Homo sapiens: one gene and its partners. The protein of the gene in region 3 interacts with the protein of the main gene of each other region in a biochemical or structural test. Each region holds a gene or a part of one and is shown on either strand. Other genes may lie near its edges.

Region 1 (7,361 bases), on a different chromosome or scaffold from region 3:
GCCTGATTCTTAGTCTACCAGCTGTGTAGGATTGGGCTCACAGTCTCCTTATATCTAAGACAGGGCTCAGATGACCTACAGCACAGGGTCAGACCCATCACTATGTCTGGTGTCAGGCACGCTGTGAGTGCTCAGAAACTCACGGCTTCTTTTACCCTTAGGGAATACACTGAAGTTGGGAGGTTTTTTGTTTGTTTGTTTGTTTGTTTGTTTTTGAGACAGAGTTTCACCCTTGTTGCCCAGGCTGGAGTGCAATGGTGCGATCTCGGCCCACTGCAACCTCCACCTTCTGGGTTCAAGTGATTCTCCTGCCTCAGCCTCCCAAGTAGATGGCATTACAGGCATGCGCCACCATGTTTGGCTAATTTTGTGTTTTTAGTAGAGGTGGGGTTTCACCATGTTGGTCAGGCTGGTCTCAAACTCCTGACCTGAGGTGATCCACCTGACTCGGCCTCCCAAAGTGCTGGGATTACAGATGTGAGCCACCGCGTCTGGCCTGAAGCTGGGAGTTCTAGAGGAAGGCTGGGCCACAATGACCTGGTTGACTTCCAGCCCCAAGGTCCCAAGCCCCCACGTTTGCTGCTGAACTAGGCACCAGTTTGGATTGGCTCTGAGGCATGGCACTCAGCAAGCCTCAGGGCAGAGAGGCAAGTGTAGGACATGTTGCAGTGGATGAAGTATGTTTGTTTTGTCCTGCTCTGGGTCAGTTCAGTGGCTCTGACTTTAGCCAGAAATTGGCTCCTGGCCCTGTGTCTGACCTTGGACCTCTGTGGATTAAATTTGGGCCTGAGCCTTGCCTGGGTTTTTGGCTAGGTGTCTGGCCTTCTGCCATGCCTCAAACACACCTGATCAGCCAGGCACATCTGCCAGAGACTTTGGAAAGACTTCTGCTCAATCATCCTTCAGCATATAAGGTTTTCTCCTTCCCTTCTCAGCCTAGCTAATTTTTGTTTTTTGAGATGGAGTTTCACTCTGTCCCCCAGGCTGGAGTGCAGTGGCAGGATCTCAGCTCACTGCAACTTTCGCCTCCCGGGTTCAAGCAATTCTCCTGCCTCAGCCTCTCTAGTAGCTGGGACTACAGGCACCCGCCACCACACCTGGCTAATTTTTGTTTTTTTTTTAGTAGAGACGGGGTTTCACCATATTGGCCAGGTTGGTCTTGAACTCCTGACCTTGTGATCTGCCTGCCTTGGCCTCTCAAAGTGCTGGGATTACAGGCATGAGCCACCACACCCGGCCCTAGCTAATTGTTATTTGTCCTTCCAGATGTGGCTCAGTCATCAGCTCTCACAGAAGTCCTTCCCTTGGCACTTGCCTCCTCGCCATATTGGATTAGGTGCCCTTCCTCTGGTCTTCCACAGTCCCTGTGCTTCTCTGTTCCACACCACTTGCTCCTCAGTTGGCACTCAGCTTGCTTGAAGGCAGGTCTCTGCCCCAGTGCCCGGTACTCAGTAGATGCTCTGGCAGTGTTTACTGGATGAATGAAGCTTTTCTGCTCAGTGGCTCTGTTCTCTAAGCCCCCATTTGCCAGCAACTGAGCCACAACTTGTATTTCAAGGTTCAAAGAGCAGAGGAGGCAGCTCAAATGGAACAGCCCATCCGCAATCGCAATCTGCAAGATTTACTCTCACCATTAGGCAATCTTAGGTAGGTCAAGCACAGTGTCTCACACTTGTAATCCCAGCACTTTGGGAGACCCAGATAGGTGGATTGCTTGAGTCCCAGGAGTTCGAGATCAGCCTCGGGAACATCTCTACAAAAAGTACAAGAAGTAGCCAGGCATGGTGGTGCACACCTATAGTCCCAGCTACTCAGGATGCTGAGGTAAGAAGATGTCTTGAGTCCGGGAGGTCGAGGCTGCAGTGAGCTATGATGCTATGATCATGCGACTGCATTATAGCCTGGGTGACAGAGCGAGACTCTGTCTCAAAAAAAAAAAAAAAAAAAAAAAAAAAAAAGGAGAATCCCAGGTACCTGGGTATGACTATTAGCTGTTTAAGTTCCATTTCTGAGAAGAGGTATTATTACAGATATGTGTATAAAAGCAGTATAAAGACATCTCTTTGACTCTTGCATAGATGTTGGCTCAGCTCAAGCTGAGGGCATGGTCAGGGTCTTGTGCCAGTCAGGGCCCAAGAGAGGACATCTCTTACATGGGGAGCCCACGAGGGGCTGACAGGCCACCAGGATGTACAGATCCCTGCCCGCCTTCCCAAGTTCTGTGGTAAATAGAGGGGGTTGAGGGAGTCAGGTTCCAGGGCAAACCTAGACAGTCGAGGTAAACTACTGTCCCTCAAGCCTTCTCCCCAACCAGGTCTTTTACTCCCTACTGCCAAGGAGAGATACTCTTGATGGCACCCAACCTGCTGTCCCCTTCCTGGGGGACACTTGGGGTCTACAGGGTCTTTGGAGCAGCAGGTGGGAGTGGAGGCACAGGGGGTGCACAGCAGCTCCCACCAAATGGCTGCATGGGTGGCTGGGATGCCAAAGGAAGCCTGCATGGGATTAAGAGCCTCAGCATGGCAGGCAGAGCCAGCAGCACTGTGAGGCTCCCTTAGGCCTGGGGCAAACCTGAGAAGGGAGTGGGTTCCCTGGACATGTAAAGCTGGTTCTAAGTCATTGAGGTCCACCCAGAAAAAGAATGTCCTCAGAAATGATGCTGACAATCAAAACCACAATGAAATGCCATTTCGCCCCCAATAGGATGACTAGAATAAAAAAAGACACACAATTACAAGTGTTTGCAAAGATGTGGAGATATTGGAACCCTCATATGTTGTTGGTGGGAATGTAAAATGGTGCAGCTGCTTTGGAAAACAGTTTGGCAGTTCCCCCAAAAGTTAAACATGGAGTTAACATATGATCCAGGAATTCCACTCTTAGGTATATACCCAAGAGAAAGAAAAGCATATGTTCATACAAAGACTTGTACATGAATATTCATAGCAGCTTTATTCACAGTAGCCCCAAAGCAGAAAACTAAATATCCATCAAGTGATGCAGGGATAAACAAAACGTATAGACATACAGTGAAATATTACTCAGTCATGAAAAGGAATGAAGTACTGCTACATGTTACAACATGAATAGATCATTAAACATTGGTTACTGAAAGAAGCTAGTCATAGTCACAAAAGGCCACATGTTGTATGATTCCGTTTATAGAAAATGTCCTGAATAGGGAAATCCATAGAGATTGAAAGTAGATTAGTGGTTCCCAGAGGCGGAGGAAAGGGGTGAATGAGGAGTGACTGCTAACGGGTAGTTCTTTTTGTGAGGGGCAGGGGAGGGGAGTGGGAAGTGGTGAAAATGTTCTGGAATTAGCTCATGGTGATGGTTGCAAAACTTTGTGAATATGCTAAACACCACTGAATCGTACACTTTTTTTTTTTTGAGACAGCGTCTCACTCTGTTGCCCAGGCTAGAGTGCAGTAGCGCAATCTCGGCTCACTACAACCTCTGCCTCCCGGGTTCACGTGATTCTCCTGCCTCAGCCTCCCGAGTAGATGAGATCACAGGCACGTGCCGCCATGCCGGGTTGACTTTTGTATTTTTAGTAGAGACGGGGTTTCACCATGTTGCCTAGGCTGGTCTTGAACTCCTGACCTCAGGCGATTCACCCGCCTCGGCCTCCCAAAGTGTTAGGATTACAGGCGTGAGCCACCGCGCCCGGCTTGAATTGTACACTTCAAAAGGTGGAATTTTATGGTGTTGAATTATATCTTTATTTTTTTAACGGGGGGAAAATGACGCCGCTGGAGAGGAGTTAGCGGAACTGAAACAATGAAATGGTGCGCGAGTGTCGCCTGTCCCCGTCGCATCCATCCCAACGAAGTTTGGGCCCTGGAACGGTGCACCCAGAAGGCCTGCGGGGAGAGACGCTGGGGCATGATCTGGAAGAAAGACGTCTCAGGATTCGAAGGGAATGCAGCTAAGGTGGCGGCGGAGGTTCGCCTAGGACTGGGGAGGCGTCCCTAGGCTCAGAAGTTGGCCCGGCCGGAGCGGAGATTTAAAGGTTGGAGCGCAGAGGCTCTTAAAGAGGCCGAGTCGAATTCCCACTCGGCGTCCACCTTAAAGCCAGCTCCCCGGCACCACGGATCTGACCCGGGTAAGTGCTGGGCCGCGGGAGAGGCTGCGGCGCCGACCCCAGCCCCTGGCGCTCTAGCGCGCCCTGCCGGGCCCAGGGGACTCGGCGCGGGTGGGCTGGACTTCGTAGGCGCGCGTCCTGGGGGCCGGGGTGCACGCGGGGGCGACAGGGTCGAGGCACCCGGCCCGGGCTCCCCACTGGCGCGCCCGCAGCGGCGCTCTATTTTTAGCAGGCGCTGTGGCAATATAAGGAATGCGCGGCGCGCTAGGCGCTCGGGGCGCACGCTGGCGGCGCGGTCGCTTTAAGGAGGCGCCGGGGCGGGGACGGACCGGAGTGGCCGGCTGGCGGGGAGCCGTCAGTCCGGCGGCCGCGGGGCCCGGCGGGCGCGACGCTGCCTCCTCACCGGCGCAGGCTAGGAGGGGGCGGCCTGAGTGCCGTAGCCGAGCCGGGGCTGGAGCGCGCGGTGAGTGGTCGGGCGGCCTTGGAGGGGAGGGGGCCCGGCCGCGCCGCCTCTCGCCCCGGCCGTCGCTTTGTTCCGGGGCGGGAGGTGTGGCCGCCCTCCGGGCTCGGCCGCGCTCTCCGCTTGCGGGGTGCGCCCTGGGACCGGCTGTGCGTGGCGTTTTGCCCCCATCGCGGGCTCCCGCGTAACGGTGTGCGTTCGTGAAATCGGCCACGACCAAGACCCCAGTGGGGAGGGCCTGCGCGCCGCTCAGAGAGACCCTTTCATGGTAATTACAGTTCCTTGGCTGCCTGGGCGAGAACCCGGTGGATAGATGGGCGGCAGGACGGGGCGGCGGGGGATGGGTGGGTGGGTGGGGGACTCTTTACCCCCCCGCCTTAAGATGGCGTTAACGAGGGGAGGGATCCGCCAGGGAGTTGACAAATTCATCTGAATAATAAAACGCAGCCTGCTTCATAAACAACCCTTCACTGCCCCCGGAGGTTTGGGGAGCTGGAGCTGTGGTCACAACTAGGGCCTGGGCTCATGCATTGAACTGATCTGGCTGAGGCATCAGACACGGTGCCAGTCCTGCCCTGCGGGGAAGACAAGAGCACAAAGTGACAAGCCAGTGTGGTAAGTGCTGAGATTCGGTAAGCCCAGGGGTTGTGGGAGCCCCTAGGGGTCCCTACTGCAGAGTGGGAGGTGAGAGAAGGCCGCCTAGAGGAGTTAATGTCTGGCTGGCCGCAGCGTATACACTGGACACCCAGTTAGACTCTGGCTAGAGCTGAGGTCTGTTCTGGCCTGGGGCAAAGTGGAGTCTGGAGAGGTGGACAGAGTCCATCAAGGCCACTGGGGCCTTGATCATAGAGCTCTGCCATTGCCCCTACTCCCCAATGGCCCCTGATGGTGTGGAACCTCCCTGGCCTTGCTCCTCTAGGACTCACTCTGTCCTGGACCTGACCAGAGAGGGTGGCTGACAAGGCTCGGAATCGTGGCCTCCAGAGGTTTGTCTGGCAGCAGAAGTAAGATGGAGATATGACTTTAAGAGCTCTGAAACTCCACTGTAATAACAGCAACCAACAGGGCTTCCAAAGACCAGGCACTTGAAGTGGATTTGCTCATCATTTGACAAGACACCTCTTGACAAGACACCTCCAGAAGGATTTTGTTTATTGTAAAGGATGGAGGAACTGGGGTGAAAAAGAGCCAACAGCTTGCCCAAGATCATATCTGAAGTCCATGCTTTTGGCCACGTGGCTGTCCTGGGCTTCGGAAGGCTCTGGTGCAGCCTGTGTTAGAGTTTTGTAATATATTGTTTTATAATTATTCACTATAGACATTCACTGGTGGGTTGAAGTGTGAGGCAGTGAGCTGTGGGTATTAATAACTGACTCGTGTCAGAAGCTTAGCAGTGAACAAAGCACTTTCTCGGATACGGTTCTTAGAGCTTCTCCTGCTTCTTTTCCCGGGGAAGAAACTTGAGCTGCTAACATTTTGTAAACCTCCTAATTTCCTGTAAATCACATGTCCCTGCTGAGTGGGGCTGAAAATGTTTCGGGCAATGGTTTTCACCCTTAGGTCTGTTCACACTGCCCAGCAGCCAGTTAGCTTCTCTCTGTAGTTTATGGTGTAGTTTGTCCTTTTTCTGCCGGGGTGGGAGGCATGGGGCTTTCATGCTCTGGGGTTTTTGAGGTCTGCCAGCCTCTGGGGAGGGAGGTGTTGGGCAAGCCTCGTGCTCTGGTGGAAACTGACCCCCTAGATGTGACCTCGGCATTTCCTAAAGCTGGGGGCGGGACTGGGGTAGGCGGTAGTCAAGGCCCTTTGGTGAAGCAAGCGATTGTCTCCAGCGTTGTCAGCTTCGCTCCTCCATAAGACAGTTGCTAATTTCCACCTCTGTTTTCACCTACATAAGACACTTTATGACAGGTTTAACTTTTATGTTATTATTAGCTCTAGCCACTGGTATTTCATACTCAGTTCGTCTGAGCTACTTATAAAGTGACAAGTCCAGCCAGGGCAACATGGTGAAACTCCGTCTCTACAAAAATTAGCTGGGCCTGGTGGCATGCACCTGTAGTCTTAGCTACTTGGGAGGCTGAGGTGGGAGGATTGCTTAAGCCCAGAAGGCAGAGGTTGGAGTGAGCCATGATCACGCCACTGCACTCCAGCTTGGGTGACAGAGCAAGACCCTGTCTCAAAAAAAAAAAAAAAAAAAAAAGTGACAAGTCAGTTACCCTTGGGGTTGGTTTGGTTCCTAAGCTCTAGTGATCACCTGGAACCAGGAATGACTATTGGCCTCTGATAAATTAGGCTCCTGGGATGACTGGTCCTAACCTCAGTCAGAATCACATGTTGACCAGCCTCCTGGATCTAGTGAGTTCTCAGGGAAATGTGGCTTCCATAATATATTTCACATCAGATTTAACCATTGTAATCTGTTCTGCCAATGAAATGCCCCCAAACAGAGTGTGTCTCCCTGAAAGCAATTGAAAAACATACCTGCTCATGAGCATTGTGTAGTTTGTACAAGCATACTCATGTGAACTGAATGGGAATGCATTCTTGTGCAATGCTGGAATGTTCTTAAGTGTCCAGAGGATGTGCATTGAGTTCCAGAGGCTCTGTACCTGCCAGGCCCTGGGCAGGCATAGAAGGTACAGTCACCTTTATCTGGAGACAGGTAAAAAAGGAGCTGGAGGAGTTCCCTGAGACCTGGGACACCTGGCAGGTACCCATTGTCTAGGGACTCAGCAGAGAATTCAAGCTTTAAGAGGAATTTTCTTGCTGGACTCTGAGTCCCTGTCAGCCCTCCTAAGTCTTAGATCATGCCTC
Region 2 (3,403 bases), on a different chromosome or scaffold from region 3:
CCTCCTTGCCAGTCTTCAACACACCAGGCACATGTCCACCTCATGGCATTGGCACAGACCCTTTCCCCAAGGAATGGAAAATCCTCCTTTCCCCCAGGCAGTTGCATGGGCTGCTCACTTTGAACACTTACTCGAGTATCAACTTCAATGAGATATTAACCCACTACCACCACCTCTGCCCAGTACTCTTGCCCCTTTACACGGCTTAATTCTTCTTCAAAGCACTCATCATTACACAAGTTATCTTTTACCATTTTCTAAAGATAAAAACTCCACGAGGAAAGGGATCTGAGTCTGTACTGTTCACTGTTGTTTCCGCGGCATGCAGATCAGCACTTGCCATACAGTAGAAGTGCAATGAATATTTGTTGGTAGGCCCCTAAGGATCATGTCCTGTTCTGATTTGCATGTCCTACAACATTCAGCACAAAAATTTGAACATGGTAAGCTTTAAAAAAATTCATTGAAAACAACAGCTCAAAATAAGAGTCACACCACTGTTTAAAATGGGAAGGTTTATTAAGGTTTTTCCTCAAGAGGAACAGCCAATCTCTTGCTTCTTGAGAGAAGCAATTAGTGGGAAATGTATGTCACACCTTGGGCCCAGAACCACAGGAGGCCGCTTCTCAGCATGCCCAACGAACATACATCATCCCCAATTCCCATTTAAAGCTCATTAATGTCTACAAAACAGAATCCACGTTGCCTTCCCAGAAAACAGAACTAGGAACCCAGTCAAAGCCTCCAGCTGTTCTCAACAAGAATATTTAAGCAAGACAGGGCAATAAATGGACTGCACATTCAACAAACCCATGATGAAACTGCAGTAAAATCCAGGATCAAAGAAATGTCTGGACTACATTTTCAAGAATAACTTACAGTTTTTACATTTTGGGGAACATAAATACTAAAAGCTGGGTAGTTAGACCGCCTCAAAGCTCACATTTATTTCCCTCTCGGCAAGATGAGCTCTTTCCAGACCCTGGACAAGAATCCAAACCACTCTGCCCTTTTAAGCCTGGAGCTGATTCAAGAGGGGATATTTTAACACATATTTAGCACCTTAAATAAGTACAAAATCCAAATTCTTAAAAAGGTTATTTTACAAATTATTTTCCTCCTCCAAATACCTGACAATTTCTTCACACTTTGGTTTCAACACACATACAATTTATAAGAGTATATTTTATGTTTTCTAGCATTCTGCTGTGATTGCTTGCAAAGGAAAATACCAAGGTATTCCTTATTTCTCTTTCTGTCCCTCAGTGCCTAAGACAAAACTGAGGCACATAAACTGACAAATACATGTGTATCTACAAGGGTAATGGGGCAAAATATTTTAAACTGGCCATGTCCAGGAAATGTAGAATGTCTTATTACTATTCTTCTATGGAGAAAAATGTTCCAAGCCTGTTTTAATAAAGTTGGTAATAAAGATCATTATTTTCTATAAGTATTAACTTTTCCAAGTACATTATAACCTCAAAGAAGAAGAATATTTCAGTGAGGAGTAAATGGTGGCCATTTATGATGGCAAATCAAGGTGCCAAACACAGATTAGTTCAGAGTTGTAGGGAGAAGAGAGTAACACACCAACATCCATATTTTGCCAAAAGTTCTTAAGATAATTACCCATGCAGCTGCAGTTCAGAAAACTAGGGTGTTATTCATATCTTTGATGAACTGTAGTATCTTCCCTGCCCAATTAGATTGTAAACTCTTGAGAGAATGTCTCTATGCCTTTTTGTGAACCACACAGTGTTTATGTACTAGGACTTAAATAGTTACTTCAATGCTTATGAAAGTATTAACCGGGCCAGGCGCGGTGGCTCACGCCTGTAATCCCAGCACTTTGGGAGGCTGAGGGGGGGGCGGATCACGAAGTCAGGAGTTCAAGACCAGCCTCGCCAACATGATGAAACCCCGTCTCTACTAAAAATACAAAAATTAGCTGGGCGTGGTGGCGGGTGCCTGTAATCCCAGCTACTTGGAAGACTGAGGCACAACTGTTTGAACCCGGGAGGCAGAGGTTGCAGTGAGCGGAGACTGAGCCATTGCACTCTAGCCTGGGCGACAGGGCGAGACTCCATCTCAAAAAAAAAAAAAGTATTAACCGATGTTGAAGCTCCCCCTGGTGGAGGGTAAGATTACAGCTGGATTGTGTATTTACTGTTAATTTCTAAAAGTAGACTGTTCAGGGATACCACCAAGCCATTAGAGCAAACTATGAACTATGGCATGAAGCCTCCTTAAATTCTGTGTCACTCATATAACCAAACCAAAGTCATTATACTTTAAATAGCCACACATACTAATATGAAATCAGTTTCTAGATATTTATCATTTGACATTCACACAATATCCTAGAAACTCTTGATTTTTCAGCTATAAAAATACATTTATTTTCAGGTACCCTTCCCTTTGGAACCAAGACTAAGGAGTTCACATTAGGACAATATAAAAACACACCTATCTCACTTTCTAACAGGATACTTTTCATCCTGCTCAGCAACCACAGATTTCCTTGCACATCTGACTTCAGCTGGTCCTGCTCTGCATATCACTGTGTGCCAGAAAGGCGTTTTTCTTGACAGTTCCACCTTTAACCCAAGTGGACTGTATAAGATGTGACAAAGGAATCTAATAACTATCATCTTTCTCCACCACATTCTAAAATAGAATAGACTGAGTTTATGCTACTAGTCAAGCAGACTGAGACTTGGAGTCTTATTAAATGACTTCTATTTAATCTGTTAAATAACTACACAATAGATGTGACAAGGTAGTATTTAGAAAGTTTTACTGGTTGATGAGATGTCTGTCTATGATCTTAAGTTTAAAGGTATGTTTGAGGGGTGTTTTAAAGCAGAATGACTTTAGAGGACCTTAAAATAAAAGATGCCACCCTGACCTGACAACTGGCCCTAATACTTCATTCAAGTTCGCTATAGTTTTGGCCCCTCAATCCCAGACATATGCATAATTGGATAAGTAGAAGGGAAGTGTAAGGTAACTAAGTTTATTCGAAACTAAAACAAAAACACAAACAAAAAAAATTTCCATTTTTTTAAAAACAATACTTTAACATTTTCTCAGGTTGGTCAAAGCTTAACATTTGAAACCTGATTTTAAAATTTCAGTTTAGTAAGTGACAGGCTGACCACATGCCTGGAAAATCTCAGCAAGGCATGAACACTTCTTCATACCTAGTTGCAAAGAGACAGTATCTAGAGATCCCTGAGCAATGACTTAGACTTTCTAGGACTGGTCTGTCTCCTCCTTAATATTTGAGGACAAGGCACAGGGTTTTCTAAGCTTGTTTCTTTCCTTTTCCAGAACTTAATTGGCTAACAAGCTTTTTGTTCTACCTCTCTTTATAGAGACTACATAAGTAGTATCACCC
Region 3 (7,595 bases):
AGGTGGCAGAGCAAAACCCTGTCTCAGAAAAAAAACAAAACAAAACAACAACAACAAAAAAAGCCTATAATGCACCTGGGTTGAGCAACACAACCCACAAAGAACTTTGTTAATGTCAGTTGATGTCAGATTGTCCAGGTTTGTGGGAGCCCAGGGCAGCATGGATAAGGACCACACATATTCCTAAATCAGATCTTGGTCAATATAGGAGATGAAAACTCAACTAACTCATGTAATGCACAAAGCTGTGTCTTTACTAGTGGTAATGGATTTCTGTTAACTTATCCCTGAAGTCACGCAGCTCCAGTCTGGAGGTATGGCCCATGAGACACAAAGCTGAAGGTCTACAAAAAGATCCAAGCCATGATTTGTTTGCATTAGCATCACTGCCCAATCCAAGGTGGTTAACCAGACAATCCCAGATGCTAACAAGTCACCAACCAACCAGTCTGATACATATTCTACTTGTATCTCTCTTTCTTTCAAACCCCCTGTGTTTTGGACTGTTAAGTGTATGCCCCCTACAAAATTCTTATGTTGAAGCCCTAACCCCAAACATGACATTATTTGGAGATGAGGCCTTTGATAATTATTTAGGGTTAGACTAGGTCATGATGGTGGGGCCCTCATGATGGGATTAGTGGCCTTATGAGAAGAGGGAGCCCTCTCTTCCTCTGCGTTTACCAAGGGAAGGCCATGAGAGGATATACGAGAAAGTGGTCATCTGCAGGCCAGGAAGAGAGCCCTCACCAGAAACCTAATCAGCCTACACATTGATCTCAGGCTTCCCAGCATCCTGAGCTGTGAGAAAATAAATTCCTGTTGTTTAAACCACCCAGTCTACGGTATTTTGTTATGACAGCCTGAGCTGCCTAAGACAAGTTCATATTTCACTTGTTTTTCTCCTTCTTTCAACCCCCTTCCTACTCCTTTGATGGGGAAGATTCCAAAATCACAAAGGTAGTTCCAAGGCAGAAGAAAGGGGAAATAAACAGTCAAATAAATAGTCAAAAAGTATGGGTTTCCAACACTGGAAAAACTGACAATCAAACTTCCTTCAATAAAAACTGGCTATGCAGTTACGAAATGTGTTTGGAAAGTCCCAAAAAGAAATAATACAGTATTAGAATCAAAGAGGGTTAATAAAGCATACATTATCTGAGGTAACCACATTCAGAGTAATTAAAAAATAAAACTAAATAGGTATATTGACAAGGTATACGACACCCTCCCAGGCAGCAAGAAACATGAGTATGAACGCAAATAAATACTATAGATCTATTTATACAGAAACCCTCAGCAATTCTTGTCGCAGACTGCCTGGCAGCCCTCATGTCTTCAGTATTCTGTGCCATGAAAAAGTAACCGTCAAGGATAATAGAAACATAATTTGACCTACTTTTCCCTGGATTCCTGCAAAGTCTATAACTCCAGTTCTTGTTTATTCCGACACCACATCTTGGGGACACATTTCCTCACTTACTTTGCAGGCAATCCTAAATGCCACACATGTTAAGGTCACTTGTGGGCAATTCCTAAACTCTCTGGGTCACCGACTTTAAGAATGTCCCATCACACACAGAGAATCCTCAGAACATCTTCTGAGATGGACCTGGGATGGACCATTTTCCACCTGAGATGGAAAATGCCTAGGAAAAGAGAGATGCAGCCTCGAGAAGCTGAAGACCGACATCAGTTCAGACCCTTCCCTACCCAAAGGAGGGCGCATGAAAACAAGTGGTTATCCCTCACTCTCAAGTTTACACAAACCCATCTCTGAAAGAGCTAGAAGTCTCCCAGCAAGGTCTTGTTTTAAGTCAGACAAGACTGCATTTTAAAAATTACAGCCAAACGGGAAAGAAAAACCACATTGATGCAGCTTCTCATTAAAGACCACTTAATAATAAATTTTTAAAAGATGAGTAGAACCCACCAAAGGTGCCGCCAAACCCTGGTGAGCAGGGAAATCTGAGTAAGTCAGCTCTGTGTCCTGAGGCCCTGGCGGGGCCTCCTAGGTGGCTTCTTAAAGATCCCAGGAGACAATCAGCAGACCTTCCTGCTTCTCTTAAAAATACAAAACATGCCTGACCTGCTCAGGTCATTAGATGCACTTAGAACTCAATGAGGGACACTCCTTCACCAGGAAATCGTATCTGAACACACCATCAGGAAGTCAATATTGAAGGTTCTTGGGGGCGTGCACCCTCCTGCTCAAGAGGGTGTCCAGGAGTATTAAGTGCTGGAGACACCGGAACCCAGGAACTGGAAGCTCACCCAAGAGCTTCCGACTCCTGGGTCTGCCCCTCGGCGGTGGAGACCACCAAAACCAGTCTCGATGCCCAGAGCTTGCAACAGCACCTCCAAAACAAGCACACACGTCGCATGCGTCCTGCAAACAGGGATGCCGCTCGTGGGGCCTGAAGCTTGCGGTTGGGACAGGGCTGGCTGGCTGTTGGACGCTGGACACCTGCAGCTTCCCCTCCGAGAAGAGGCAAACAGCTCGTCTTCAGCCGATGCCCGGTCCCGCAGCCTGAATCTGGGGGCCCTGGGGTTAAGTCAGGTGCAGCCTGGTGGGGGGGAGGTGTGGGGGCGGGGGAAGCCGTCGCTCAGGGGGTGGCACCTCAAAACCCGCCGTCCCGGGCCCCTCTTCAGCCGAGTCCGGCAGAAGGGCGTCCCTTCCGCCACCTCCCCAACTTCCAGACGCCCCCCTCAGCGGCCCGGGGGGTGGGCGCGGGCTCCACGTGCGCGCCGCCCGTGCCCACTCGGACAGGGCCGGGCCACTCACCCGGCCCCCAGCGGCGCTCCGCTTCCTCCGCAGCGTGAGCCCGCTCCGCAGCAGCGCGGGCAGGTCCCTCAGCCGCGGCCGCAGCGACGCCGGCGGCTGCTCGCGCTCGGGCTCCCGGGCGCTGGGGCTGCGGCGCAGGGGGCCGTCTGCCGCCACCACCGCCGCCGCGGCGGCCAGGGCCGGGCTCTCGCACGGCGGCTGCATCTTGACGGAGCCCACGGCCATCCTCATGCCCTGACGGCGCTGCGGCGCCGGGGGCTCCTCTCCACCGCGCTCGCCTCCGCGCGCCGTCCGCGCCTTCGCCAGGAAGCGAGAGGGCGCGACTGCGGCTCGGGCGCGGGGCGCGCTGCCAGCCGCTGCCCATTGGCGCGCGCCGCGGCCCCCGCGAGGCTCAGCCCCGCGCGCCTCCCCTCCCCTCCTCTCTCCTCCCCTCCCCGCCCAGGTGCGCGGGCCCCGCCCCGCCCCGCCCTTTCGCCTGCGAAAGCTGCCTGGGACCTGTCCCCCTCGGATCTCCCACTCGGGACCCGGGAGGAAGAGGGCACCTTGGGCACCGGCTCATCCACAGGTGCAGAATTCCCAGAATCTCCGGCAAACCCGCTCTTCTGTCCTGTCCCTGTCCCCCTACCCCTTAGGCTGAAAAGTCCTGCTTCACTTCTTCGAATAGCCAGGGGTTGACTTGGACTTCAACCAAGTGTGCTGGAGAGTCGTCCGCCCTCCCGCGCGTTTTGCACAGCCTGGCCCCTCATCGTAATCTTTACTCCTGGGAACTGTTTTGGCCAAGGAACTTCAAAATAGACACGCTACAAGGCAAACACCATGAGGCAAAATTGCTTTGCGCCGACCCTTCTTGGCACACGCATCCTTAAAGGACGAAGGGAGAAAACTTTTGTTGGTTATGATAGGTGTTGAGCAGAGTAGCTGCAAGTCTGGTGACCTGAAGGTGAATCTCTGTTAGCATGTCAGAACCTGACCTTCCCTGAAAGCCCGCTGCTGTGATGAATGTGCTTGGTGAACTGTAAAGGCCTGCCGTGGTGTGAATCATTGTTTACACCCTTCCAGGAGGCAGGAATTCTGGATCATTGAGAGTGAAACTATTCCAGCAGTGCCTTAAACGCCAGGGAGTGTGAATGTTCACATCTCAGCTCAATCTGTCTTCAACAAGGGCCAGCCAGGGTGTTGACTTCTCATCAGTGGGGCGCTGGGATCCCCATCTTTGTCTAAGACTTACAAAAGTTGAATAAGCTTATTCACATTTTTAAAAAATGACAAGAATCGTAGGAGGTCAGGGTCCAGAGTTGGTTTACCATTGTGCCCTCAGCCACTCACATGGTAGGTGCTTGGCAAATATGTATAAAAACATGCCATGTAACAAAAAAGGAGGAACGAACTGTGACCTCTGCCCTTAAGGAAGGTAAGACTTAACCTAGGAGTAGACAAACATCCAGAAAAACAAAGATATTGCACTTGTACTCTTGCTAATTGCCAAGTAAGTGTAGGTAAGACCACTTCAGGCCACAGGAGAGAGAAATGCTTCTGGCCTGGGATGGGCAAAGCTAAATCCACGAAAGGAAGGAAGTTTAAACTGCACCTTAAGGGTGAGTGGGGAAGATTCAACCAGGCAGAAGGAGGGTAGGTGTCCTTCAAGTAAGGAAGAAAGACATGAGGCCGGGCGCGGTGGCTCACGCCTGTAATCCCAGCACGTTGGGAGGCTGAGGCGGGCGGATCACGAGGTCAGGAAATCGAGACCATCCTGGCTAACAAGGTGAAACCCCGTCTCTACTAAAAATACAAAAATTAGCCGGTCGTGGTGGTGGGCGCCTGTAGTTCCAGCTACTCGGGAGGCTGAGGCAGGAGAATGGCGTGAACCCGGCAGGCGGAGCTTGCAGTGAGCCAAGATTGCGCCACTGCGCGACAGAGTGAGACTCCGTCTCAAAAAAGAAAAAAAAAAAGAGAGAAAGACATGAGAAAAACACAAAGGTGGTATCACACAGAACTCACTGGGCACTGAAAATATGTCATGCTAGTGAAGGGAAAGATGACATAATGAAGAAGTAAGAGAAGATACCAGAATGGATGCTAGTAACACACTGCAGAAGGCCTTAAACCCTGTCACCTTAAGCTGTGTGTGTTAACTGGAAAGGACTTTATAATAGGACTCCATAGTCCATTACAGTTTCCAAATACCTATCACATGCATTTATCCAAGGCTGAAATTGCATTTGTATGTTACCATGTCAGACTCTATCCGTTTTTACAGTGTTAAGATATTGCAGCTCCAGTTGGTAATTGGTCGTTGTCTTGAGCCCCAGAGTGCCACTCACCCCCATACCTCCAACTTCCCCATGACATACAACTAAAGGGTGAACACCTGGCCCACTAGAAGCCCTCCAGGACACTCAGATTAGTGGGTGCTTGCGCCCCATCACCCCAATGACAACATTGAATCATACCATGAACTTACTCTACTCCAAAGTAGAACACGTGTTCCGTCTCCTGGTCCAGGTTCCTGGTCTTCAAACCCATTCACACAGTTGCTCAATGCAAGGCCAGCATTCCTTAGATTCTATGGGATAGACCAAGCGTCTAAAGTTCAAGAAGGGCCTTTGGAAAATTGGTTTAGGTTAAGGTGATAAATGACAAATGCCATTTAGCTTCAGGATAAAAATAGGCAAACAACAGGGAATAGTAGGATGTGTACACAGAAGAGCCACGTCACTGTTTAACTCAAATCAAGCAACCTTTATACTCGCTGTGCCCTGTCTGGAATGAGAGTCCTCTGCAATGCTGTCCAACAGAACTTTCTACAATGATGCACATTTTCTGTTATCTGTTTTGCAGCTACTAGCCACATGTGACTGCTGAGCACTTGAAACATGGCTAGGGTGACTGAGGAACTGAATTTTTAACTTTGTTTAATTTTAATTCATATAAATTTAGATAGCAGCATATGGCTAGTGGCTACCATGTTGGATAGTGCAGTTCTAGAAATCCACATTTCTCTCAGTCAGTGTCTTCAGTTTTTAAATTCAAATGTCACCATTTCAGTGAGGCCTTCCATGACCATGTGATTTTAAATTGCAGTCTTTCCTATCCATTCCTTTCTTCATCCCCTTCCGAATGCCCCACAGAGCTTACCACCATCCATATTCTATATATTTTATTTATTTTGCCTATTGTCTGCCTCCCCACAACTAAAATGTATATGACATAAGGACAGGGCTTCTTTTCTCTTTTGTTCAGTATCTAGAACACATGAGTTGAATAATTCAATTATTTCATATATAAGAACTAAGTTTTTCAAACAGTTTAATCTGGATTTCTATACAAAATCTGATTTTGCAGTATGAAAGCTTATAAAAATGTAAATCATATAAAAATGGATTAGAATGAATAAGATCTACTGTTGGTAGCACAATAGGGTGACTATAGTTAAAAATAATTTACCGTATATTTTTAAATAACTAAAGGAGTGGAATTGGAATGTTCCTAACACAAAGAAATGATAAATGCTTCAGGTGATGGATAGCCCAATTACCCTGATTTGCTCATTACATATTCTATGCCTGTATCAAAACATCACATGTACCCCATAAATATGTACAGCTATGATTTACCCATAATAATAATAAATTTTTTTTGAGATGGAGTCTCGCTCTGTCACCAGGCTAAAGTGCAGTGGCACGATCTTGGCTTACTGCAACCCTCTGCCTCCTGGGTTCAAGCGATTCTCGTGCCTCAGCCTCCCGAGTAGCTGGGATTACAGGCACGCACCACCACACCCAGCTAATTTTTGTATTTTTAGTAGAGATGGGGTTTCACCATATTGGCCAGGATGGTCTCGATCTCCTGACCTCATGATCCGCCCGCTTTGGCCTCCCAAAGTGCTGGGATTACAGGCGTGAGCCACTGCGCCTGACCAAAAAAATTTCTTTTAATGTAAATCATATTTGTGCCAACCACACAAGTCAACGAGACCACTTGCCAGCCACTTGCAATTTTTCCTACAGGATGGGGTACCAGAGCTGAATTTTACTTAAGAGAATGAGATCATCAAAGTCAAAGTGTGTGTAAAGACCCATGGTAAGAAAACACAAATTTTAAGGCTATTGGCAGGATAGCGAAATTGAAGACCAGGAAGATAGCTCTGACAATGAGCTAGCTACAAAGTGATGAGGGCCTGAATTCATTGCGGCAATGGAAACAGAAATGAGGGGTTAGATGTTAGACAGTACAAAAGAAGGCTCCTTGGGCATAGGAGCAGTAGAAAAATACTTCAGATGGTGTTGTGGAGTGTATTGTCCAAAGATGGACAGTTCAGCATCTCCTATCTTCCAAGCTCTTCTGCAGTGTGATATTGCCACTCCCCCGAAAAGAGATGGAGTTTCTTTCTCCATCTCTTTGAATTTGAGCAGACTTTGTGATACAGGAGTTAAGAAGAAATCACTTAGGCAAATAGTAAGGGTATGGGAGTCCTTGGAAAGACTTTCCTTTATAATGAAAAGCAGTACCAAATCATTTTCTAACAAAGAGCAGCCTGTAAAGTGGAGCTGCAGATATAGACAAGCAAGCTGGGAGCTTGCACAGGTCAATGTCAGCAGGAACTAGGGTCTAAACATATTCAAGATGGCGGCTCCAACTTCCCTTTTCTCCCAGCCATGTGTACAGTGAGGACCAGAAAAGATGGTGCAGGCCAAAGGGAGAATTCATTTGCATAATAAGATTAGCATGGGGCGACCAGTCTTCCCCACTTGCTATGTAAACGTCACACCTGATCGAACCAGTCTGTGAGCCCTAGGTAAATCAGACACTG

The links. The genes of interacting proteins can lie anywhere in the genome.
Region 1: the proteins of RAPGEF5 (region 3) and MRAS form a complex in vitro, tested with the Homo sapiens proteins (one study listed by BioGRID).
Region 2: of the proteins of RAPGEF5 (region 3) and RAP1A, one has a biochemical effect on the other in vitro, tested with the Homo sapiens proteins (2 studies listed by BioGRID).

The regions. Positions count from the first base shown.
Region 1 is NC_000003.12:138,344,218-138,351,578, forward strand, and holds the start of MRAS (ras-related protein M-Ras isoform 1 precursor), read left to right. Parts: upstream 1-4,361; 5' UTR 4,362-4,550; exon of another isoform or gene 4,551-4,815; intron 4,816-4,994; exon of another isoform or gene 4,995-5,162; intron 5,163-5,466; exon of another isoform or gene 5,467-7,361. UniProt on the Homo sapiens protein: Signal transducer in the Ras-MAPK signaling pathway that regulates cell proliferation and survival. Core component of the SHOC2-MRAS-PP1c (SMP) holophosphatase complex that regulates the MAPK pathway activation.
Region 2 is NC_000001.11:111,713,789-111,717,191, reverse strand, and holds the end of RAP1A (ras-related protein Rap-1A precursor), read right to left. Parts: 3' UTR 501-3,403; downstream 1-500. UniProt on the Homo sapiens protein: Counteracts the mitogenic function of Ras, at least partly because it can interact with Ras GAPs and RAF in a competitive manner. Together with ITGB1BP1, regulates KRIT1 localization to microtubules and membranes.
Region 3 is NC_000007.14:22,354,045-22,361,639, forward strand, and holds the start of RAPGEF5 (rap guanine nucleotide exchange factor 5), read right to left. Parts: upstream 3,111-7,595; 5' UTR 3,017-3,110; coding exon 2,786-3,016; intron 1-2,785. UniProt on the Homo sapiens protein: Guanine nucleotide exchange factor (GEF) for RAP1A, RAP2A and MRAS/M-Ras-GTP. Its association with MRAS inhibits Rap1 activation.